Linked DNA regions of Homo sapiens. The protein of the gene in region 1 interacts with the protein of each later gene in a pairwise test. Each region holds a gene or a part of one and is shown on either strand. Other genes may lie near its edges. The genes, in order: SHISAL1 and TMEM140.

Region 1 (3,814 bases):
AGCCTCCCCCAGGCCCGCTGCCACAAGCCCCACAGGCCGTGCACACATTGCGGGGAGATGCTCACAGCCCACCGCTGATGACCTTCCAGAGTTCGTCTGCCTGGTGAGTGGCTACAATTGAGACCCAGAATGATTTGGGTCATTGTCTTTGGAGAGCTTGGAGAATACGCCATCACTCTCGCCATAGTGTTTGGCTCATTGGTTGCCTGATTGTTTGCTTATCTTGTTGTTTGCCAAGAAAAATTTCAAACTGTTATGGGTAGCCTACAACACATGCCTAGACAGGAAAGTCAAAATGAGAGGTGGAAACAGAGCTTAGAAGCAAAGCTTGCAAGCTCATTGCGCTTAGAGCCCAGTGTGAGAGAGGTAACCACTAAACATTTAGTGGAGTTTTGGGTTACCTAGCTGCCAAGGCAAAGGGGAAAACCGGATGGCTTTTTGAGTTGTAAATCTGGCCAAAGGAAGCAAATCAGTCTGTCCAGCCAGATTTTTCAGCATGAGGTTAGAAAATACAAATGTTACTTAGTTCCTTATGTGTACATGCCTTGTATGGCATGAGGGGTACTAGTTCTGACTCAGGCAGGCTGTGAAGGAAGGAAGGAAGGAAGGAAGGAAGGAAGGAAGGAAGGAAGGCAGGAAGGCAGAGAGGTGGCATCTCAAGGGTTGGCCTTGTGGGGTGGCTGCCCCAGGGTTATGTTCAGATCTGAGCTTGTCTACTGCAATTCCCATTTCCGCCCAGTTCCAGTATGGTGGGGATGGGCCTGACCTAATCCCAGGCGGCCCTGGGTAGTGCAGCATCTAGAGTTGGAAGGGGAGAGGCAGGGTCTGTGCGTTTGGAGCAGGAACTCCCTGGGAGGCTGGCTAGCACCAAGGACAGGAGCCAGACTGAGGGTCGATTCCCAGGTCAAGGGCTAGAGTGAGAGGTTCGGATGCTCTGTGGGGGCTGAGCTGCAGCCATGGGCACACAGGGCTCAGGGCACGTCATCCAGGGACATCATGATACCAAGCCCAGGCTGCAAGACCCATCCCAGAGCCCCCTTGCTGGAGGGGTGCAGGAGTTTGCCGCACAGTGACCCCTGGGTTCATGTGCAGGAGCTTTGCAGGTAACCTAACCTGGGTCTGAGTCCCGGCTCTGCCATTTACCTGCTCCTTGACTTCGGGCATGAGATTTCACCCCTCTTAACCTTCCGATCCTCGTGAAGGAGGAGTGGGTAAGACTGCCCCCTCCCAAGGATTAACTGTGCACCTACCTGGCACATAGTAGGTCCTCAGTTAATCCTTGCTGCCTCCTCTTTGGAGGCAGCAATGACGTGAGTTAGTGATCGTTCACATAGCTAGCAGGTAGTGACCTTTTCAATTATTATTAAATAATTAATAAGATGCATAAATCAGCTTGTGCTTATCGATTGAATAATGACACCATCCATCACACAGGAGACAAAGACACAGCCCTGTGTGGCTCGGTTTGACAAATGCTGGCAGAGTGGGTCCTTGGGCAGGGGTTTGTGCCAGGCTCTGGGGGATGTGGAGGTGATGGGTAGAGAAGAAGCCAGCCTCCACCCTTGAGCAGTGGGGACTCCAGAGAGCTACAGACAATAAAATGTCTGTTGGCAGGACCCAAGAGTGGGGTGTTCTGAAATGTGGATCCTTTGCAACAGACACACCTAGAGGGTTTGTCAAACTAAAGACCCAGAGCCTACTGACCAGGCATCTCTGAGGGTGATGCTCATAGGCACTACAGCTCAGGAGGCACTGGAAAACGTCTATAAGAGCCAAGCTTTTTGATAGCTGAGAATCTTCCGTTTAAAACGGTGGTCCTCCCCCACTCCCGCACCTTTTGCATGCACATACATTTGGAATAAATAGCTCACACCTCGCCGAACACTTGCCAAGGGGATGGAGGATGTCGTGAGCACCCTGCACTCAGCACCTGGGTGCTGTTTTCCTGCCCCGGCCTCAAGGTCTTCCATTTCCTACGTCACTGTGCTTGCTGCTAACAGCTCCCCGATCTCATCCTGCCCAGAACGTTTTTGCCTGTCTCAGCAGCAGTTCCCACCCTACCCCTGTTCCATATTGCTTTTCCCCAACAAGCACACATTGTGCACCTGCTGTGTGCCAGGCACTGTGCTATGCCATCAGGATGCAGAGAGCTTGCCAAGCCTGCAGGGATTGTGCACGGAGCCTGAGTGGGCAGCTGAGCTCCAGGTCCAGGTGGGACACTTTTCCTTTTGGAGCTCAGAGGCTCTTCGTCTTTCCTGACCGTCCTGAGTGCAGGCTCAGGAAGGTGTTCCCATCACCCTGTGAGCGTGAAAAAAGGTTGTCAGAACCCACAAAGGTGTGGTGCAGGATAAGGGAATAGCCAGTCCCTGGCTGGATTCACGGGCACCGTCCCACTCCCGCTGTGCTCTTTGACACGCAGCGTGACTCTGGGTGAGGAGCTTCCTTTTTGGGCTTCAGTTTTGCCAGTTGAGGAACCAACGTGAGAGGGGATTTCATTTGGAGATCAGGGAGGAGCCTCCTTTCCTGCCACTCCAAGGTCCTCCCAGCTGTGTGACCCAGGACATCTCCAGCATTATAGCTCTGACTGTAACCCGACTAGGTCCCTGGTCCCCGGGTGGCCCAGCCTCCATGTGGTGTCCCAGTCAATGAAACACCACTTGGCACCCAAACAGCCATTACAAACGCCCTCTGCGGCCCTCCTCGGGCACACTGGAGAATGTCCAGGCAAGGAGTGTGGACCAGGGAGGTTCTTGAACACTCATCAGCCCCTGGAAAGGCTTCTGTTCCCCTCACAGCCCTCTCAGGAGCCTCCTGCTGAGTGCCGCTGCTCTTCAAAATCTCTCTTCACTTCTGCTTTCACCTCCAGAAGTCTCCTATGAGCCCAGCCTCTGTGGCTTCTCTGCCTTTCTCCCCTGCCCACCCCAGCTCTTTCTCCTGCGAATGAATCCAGCTTCTCCAGCTCCTCAGGGCTCCCTGTGCAGGGGCAGCAGGAGGAAGACAGCTGCAGACACACCCACATCCCCTGAGCTCCTGGAGTCTCCTAATGAGGCCAGCCACTTCTGGGGAGGCTTAGTGGGACCCAAGCAGTGGGTCAAGGACCACCGCAGGGGGGACAGAGACAGGAGGCCAAGGCACTGCCAGGACAGGGCAGTCAGGTGATGCCAGGGGAGGTGGAGGCAAGGGGCAGCTGTGCTGGGGGCCAGGACTGCCTCAGTGCCCAGGAGTTCCCTGCCCCTGGCTCCCACCCTGGCTGCTGCAGCGGGAGGGCCCACGGTGGGCGGGGAGCAGATCCCAGAGCTGGGGCAGAGGAGTAAGCTGGGCGACTGCTGGGCCCAGCCTCAAGGCCTTCGGCTCCCCAGCGGAGGCCGGCACAGCCTCCCCTCTCAGAAACCCCTTGGGTTTGGTGGGTGAGGGCCCCGAGGCAGCCCCCAGGCCACCGCTGAACAGCAGTATTGAAGGCCCTGGCGGCAGTGGCTCAGCCCCACACAGCCCCCGCCTCTTGGTCCCCACAGACACGCACTCCATCAATCATAAGAAATGTGATTTTCCTGCCAGCTGGCTGGGCAAAATCCAAGTGCTGCCGAATCGCGTGGCCAGGCAGGTGGGGCGTTGTGCCGTCCCCCGCCCGTGGGATTTATAACTGAGTTAGGAGCCAGCAGGGGCGTCAGGAGTGGTGCAATGGTCACAATGCTCAGCTGCCTTCGTTTAATTTCACGGAGAAGCGGGGCTTTCCCTCCGCTTAGTAGCTACTGAACTCAGACTGTGAAGTTTCTTGCTCAGATTCTCTGGACTGTGTCTTCTCTGGTGACCCCAA
Region 2 (3,814 bases), on another chromosome or scaffold:
ATTAACAGGGAAATCAGGCTGTCCTATGCACATCTAGGTCAATACCCACTGCTCTGCAACATGCTGCTGTTGAGACTGAAATGTGAGCAGACTGCCTTCCCTACAGCTTCTTGCCCATGCTGCCTGCCTGGAGGGACCCCTGCCCTCCTGGTCACAGGCCCAAGGTGCCATTTTGAGAGTTTAATGCTGGGCTGTGCCCCACCTTCTTGCTGAGTTCAACTTGATGTGGCTGAAGCTGCTGCCCAGTCAAGGAGAAACAAGGAATCTATGCTCTCCCGCACATACCTAGGACAATACCCAGTGCCTGCTACGGGTTGCTGTGAGACCGAGACTCAAGTAGACCACCCTCCCTACAGCTTCTTGACCATGCTGCTCACCTGATAGGGGCCCCACCTTCTCTGTTCACAAGCCCACAGCTGGCACCATTTTGAGAGTTTAATGCTGATTCATAACCAGTCTGAATTAACAATCAGGCAATGTGGCTGCAGCTGCCACCCTGGTAGGAAAGGGACAGGGAAGACCAAGCTCTCCTAAGCACACTTAGAACAGTGCCCACCACCCTGCTACAGGTGGCTGTGAGACTGGGGAGTAGCTCACCCAACCCATCACAGCTTCCAGCAACACCAACATGGACTGCTTGGATCCCAGTTGGCTGCTTCAACAGTGCTACTGCCATCACTCACATGACACCACCTGCTCAGGGGCTAGAGATCATGCCCACACACTGGGCTCACCACTCCCACTACTAGCTTCTAAGCAAGCCATGTGGAGGCCCAAGAATCAGCCCTCCAAGACCCACTAACCACCAGAGCAGCGTAAGCTGCTGTGGGGCCTAAAAAGGGCACACTTACCCCACTGTTGCCACCACTGGGGTCCAAAGGCTGCTCAGTTGGCATCCAAGTCCCAGCTAAACTTCTGGGGACTTAGTCTCAGCTAATTACCATACTCTATCCCACTGAGGAAATCACAGAGAACACTGACCCTATGCCGAAGAAGTCATAGAAAGATCACACGACTGCAGGCATCCAAAATCAAAGTCAAAGCATCTTAACAACATGCATATATCCTCAGGAAAAAATTCTCCCTTATAAAAGCAATTTCAAAAAATTGGAACAAGCAACTGCTACACCAGACGCAAAGAAATCAATGGAAGGATACAGGAAACATGTAAAAGCAGAGAAACATGACACCATTGTATTAGTCCATTTTCACACTGCTGATAAAGACATACCTGAGACTGGGAAGAAAAAGAGGTTTAATTGGACTTACAGTTCCACATGGCTAGGGAGGCCTCAGAATCCTGGCAGGAGGTGAAACACACTTCTTATATGGTGGTGGCAAGAGAAAATGAGGAGGAAGCAAAAGCAGAAACCCTGATGAACCCATCGGTTCTCATGAGACTTATTCACTATCACGAGAATAGCATGGGAAAGACCAGCCCCCATGATTCAGTTACCTCCCCTGGCGTCCCCTCTCACAACATGTGGGAATTATGGGAGCTACAATTCAAGTTGAGATTTGGGTGGGGACACAGTCAAACCGTAACAATCATCAAAGAACCACAACAGCTGTCCAGCAGCAGCAGATCCCAATCAAAGAGAATTCTTCAAAATGCTAGATAAAGAATTCAAAATATTGATTTTAAAGAAGCTCAATGAAGTGCAAGAGAAATCTGAAAACTAATACAAAGAAATCAGAAAATTAATCCAGGATATAAATGAGAAATTTATCAAGGAGATAGACATCTTAAATAAAAACAAGCAGAAATTCTGGAACTAAAAAATTCATTGAAGGAAATACACCATATGCTCAAAAACTTCAACAGTAGACTACACCAAGCAGAAGAAAGAATCTCAGAACTCGAAGACAGGACTTTTGAAATAATCCAGTCAGACAAAAATGAGGAAAAAAGGATAAAAAAGAATGAATAAAGCCTTTGAGATGTCTGGGACTGCAAGAAGCAACTGAACTTATGAATTATTGGTATTTCTGAGGGGGAAGAGAGATTAGAAAGTTTAGAAAACATATTTAAAGAAATAGACATCCAGATACAGGAGGCCCAGTGATCCCCAGGAAAATACATTGCAAAAGGACCTCACCATGGCATATTCAAAATGTCTGAAGTCAAGTGAAAGAAAGAATTTTAAAATTAGCAAAAGTGACTAGTCACCTATAAAGGAAATCCCAAATCTCATCAGACCAATTGAGGACTTTTCAGCAGAATTCTTACATGCCAGAAAACAATGGGATGGCATTTTCAAAGTGCTAAAGGGAAAAAAAAAAACAGTGTGTCTGTCAGCCAAGAATTTTGTATCCTGCCAGAATAAGCTTTATAAAAGGAGAAATAAAGTCCTTCCCATACAAGCAAATGCTGAGGGAATTTGTCACCACTAGACTGGTACTACAGGAAATGCTCAAAAGGATCTTAAACACTGAAATGAATGGTGTTTTTAATTAATTATTTTTGATAGAGGGTCTTGCTTTGTCACTCAACCTGGAATACAGTAGTGCAATCACAGTTCATTGCAGCCTTGACCTCGTGGGCTCAAGCAATCTTCCTGCCTCAGCCTTTTGAGTAGCTAGAAATACAGACATGTGCCACCATGCCCGGTTAATTTTTAATTTTTTTGTAGAGACAAGATCTTGCTATTTTGCCCCGGTTGGTCTTGACCACCTTCCATCAATTAATGCCCCTGCCTGGCATCAATTAATCCCCCTGCCTAGCATCCCAAAGCACTGGGATTAAAGGCATGAGCCACGATGCCCAGCCAAAAGGTTGATATTCACCATCACAAAAACATACAGAAGTATAAAACTCATAGTTTGTATAAAACAATCATACAAAGGAAGAGAAAGGAATCAAATGGCAACATGACAGAGTTTCATCAAAACACAAAGTCAAAAAGGCAAAGACAAAGAGTCTATAAAACAACCTGAAAACAATAAACAATATAACAGAAACAAAGTCTCACAGATCCATATTAACCTTGAATGTAAATGGATTAAATGCTCCACTTAAAAGATACAGATTGGCAGAGTGGATGAAAAAACATGATCCATGCTGCTTACAAGAAACTAACCTTACCCATAAAGACATATAGACTGAAAACAAAGGGGTGGAAAAAGATATTCCATGTAATTATAAACCAAAAGCAAGCAGGCATAGCTATACTTATATCTGATAAAACAGATGACTTTAAATTAAAAATAGTAAGAAAAAAGATAAGGTCATTGTATAATGATGTAGGGATAAATTCAGCAAGACGATATAATAGTCCTAAATATATATGTACCCAACATTGAAGCACCCAGATTAACAAAACAAATATCACTAAAGAAAGAGGTAGACAGCAATACAATAACTGTAGGGGACTTTTAACACTCCACTCACAACACTAGACAGATCATTGGGACAGAAAATTAACAAAGAAACATTGTACTTAAATTGAACTTTAGACCAAATGGACTTATAAAACATTCTACCCAACAACTACAGAATATACATTATTTTTGTCAGCACATGGAACATTCTCCAAGATAGATCACATGTAAGGCCACAAAAGAAGTTTTAACAAACTTTTTAAAAATTGAAATTATATCAAGTATCTTCTCAGACCACAGTGGAATAAAACTAGAAATCAATACCAAGAGGAACTTTGGAAACTATACAGATAATGGAAATTAAACAGCATGCTCCTGAACAACTACTGGGTCAATGAAGAAATTAAGACAAATTAAAAACATCTTTGAAATGAATGCAAAAACACATTGTACTAAATCCTGCAGGTTACAGCAAAAGAAGTGCTAAGAGGGA

The links.
Region 2: the proteins of SHISAL1 (region 1) and TMEM140 interact in binary tests that used the Homo sapiens proteins (3 or more experiments, as listed by UniProt).

The regions. Positions count from the first base shown.
Region 1 is NC_000022.11:44,281,717-44,285,530, reverse strand, and holds part of SHISAL1 (protein shisa-like-1 precursor), read left to right. Parts: coding exon 1-103; intron 104-3,814.
Region 2 is NC_000007.14:135,154,503-135,158,316, reverse strand, and holds part of TMEM140 (transmembrane protein 140), read right to left. Parts: intron 1-3,814.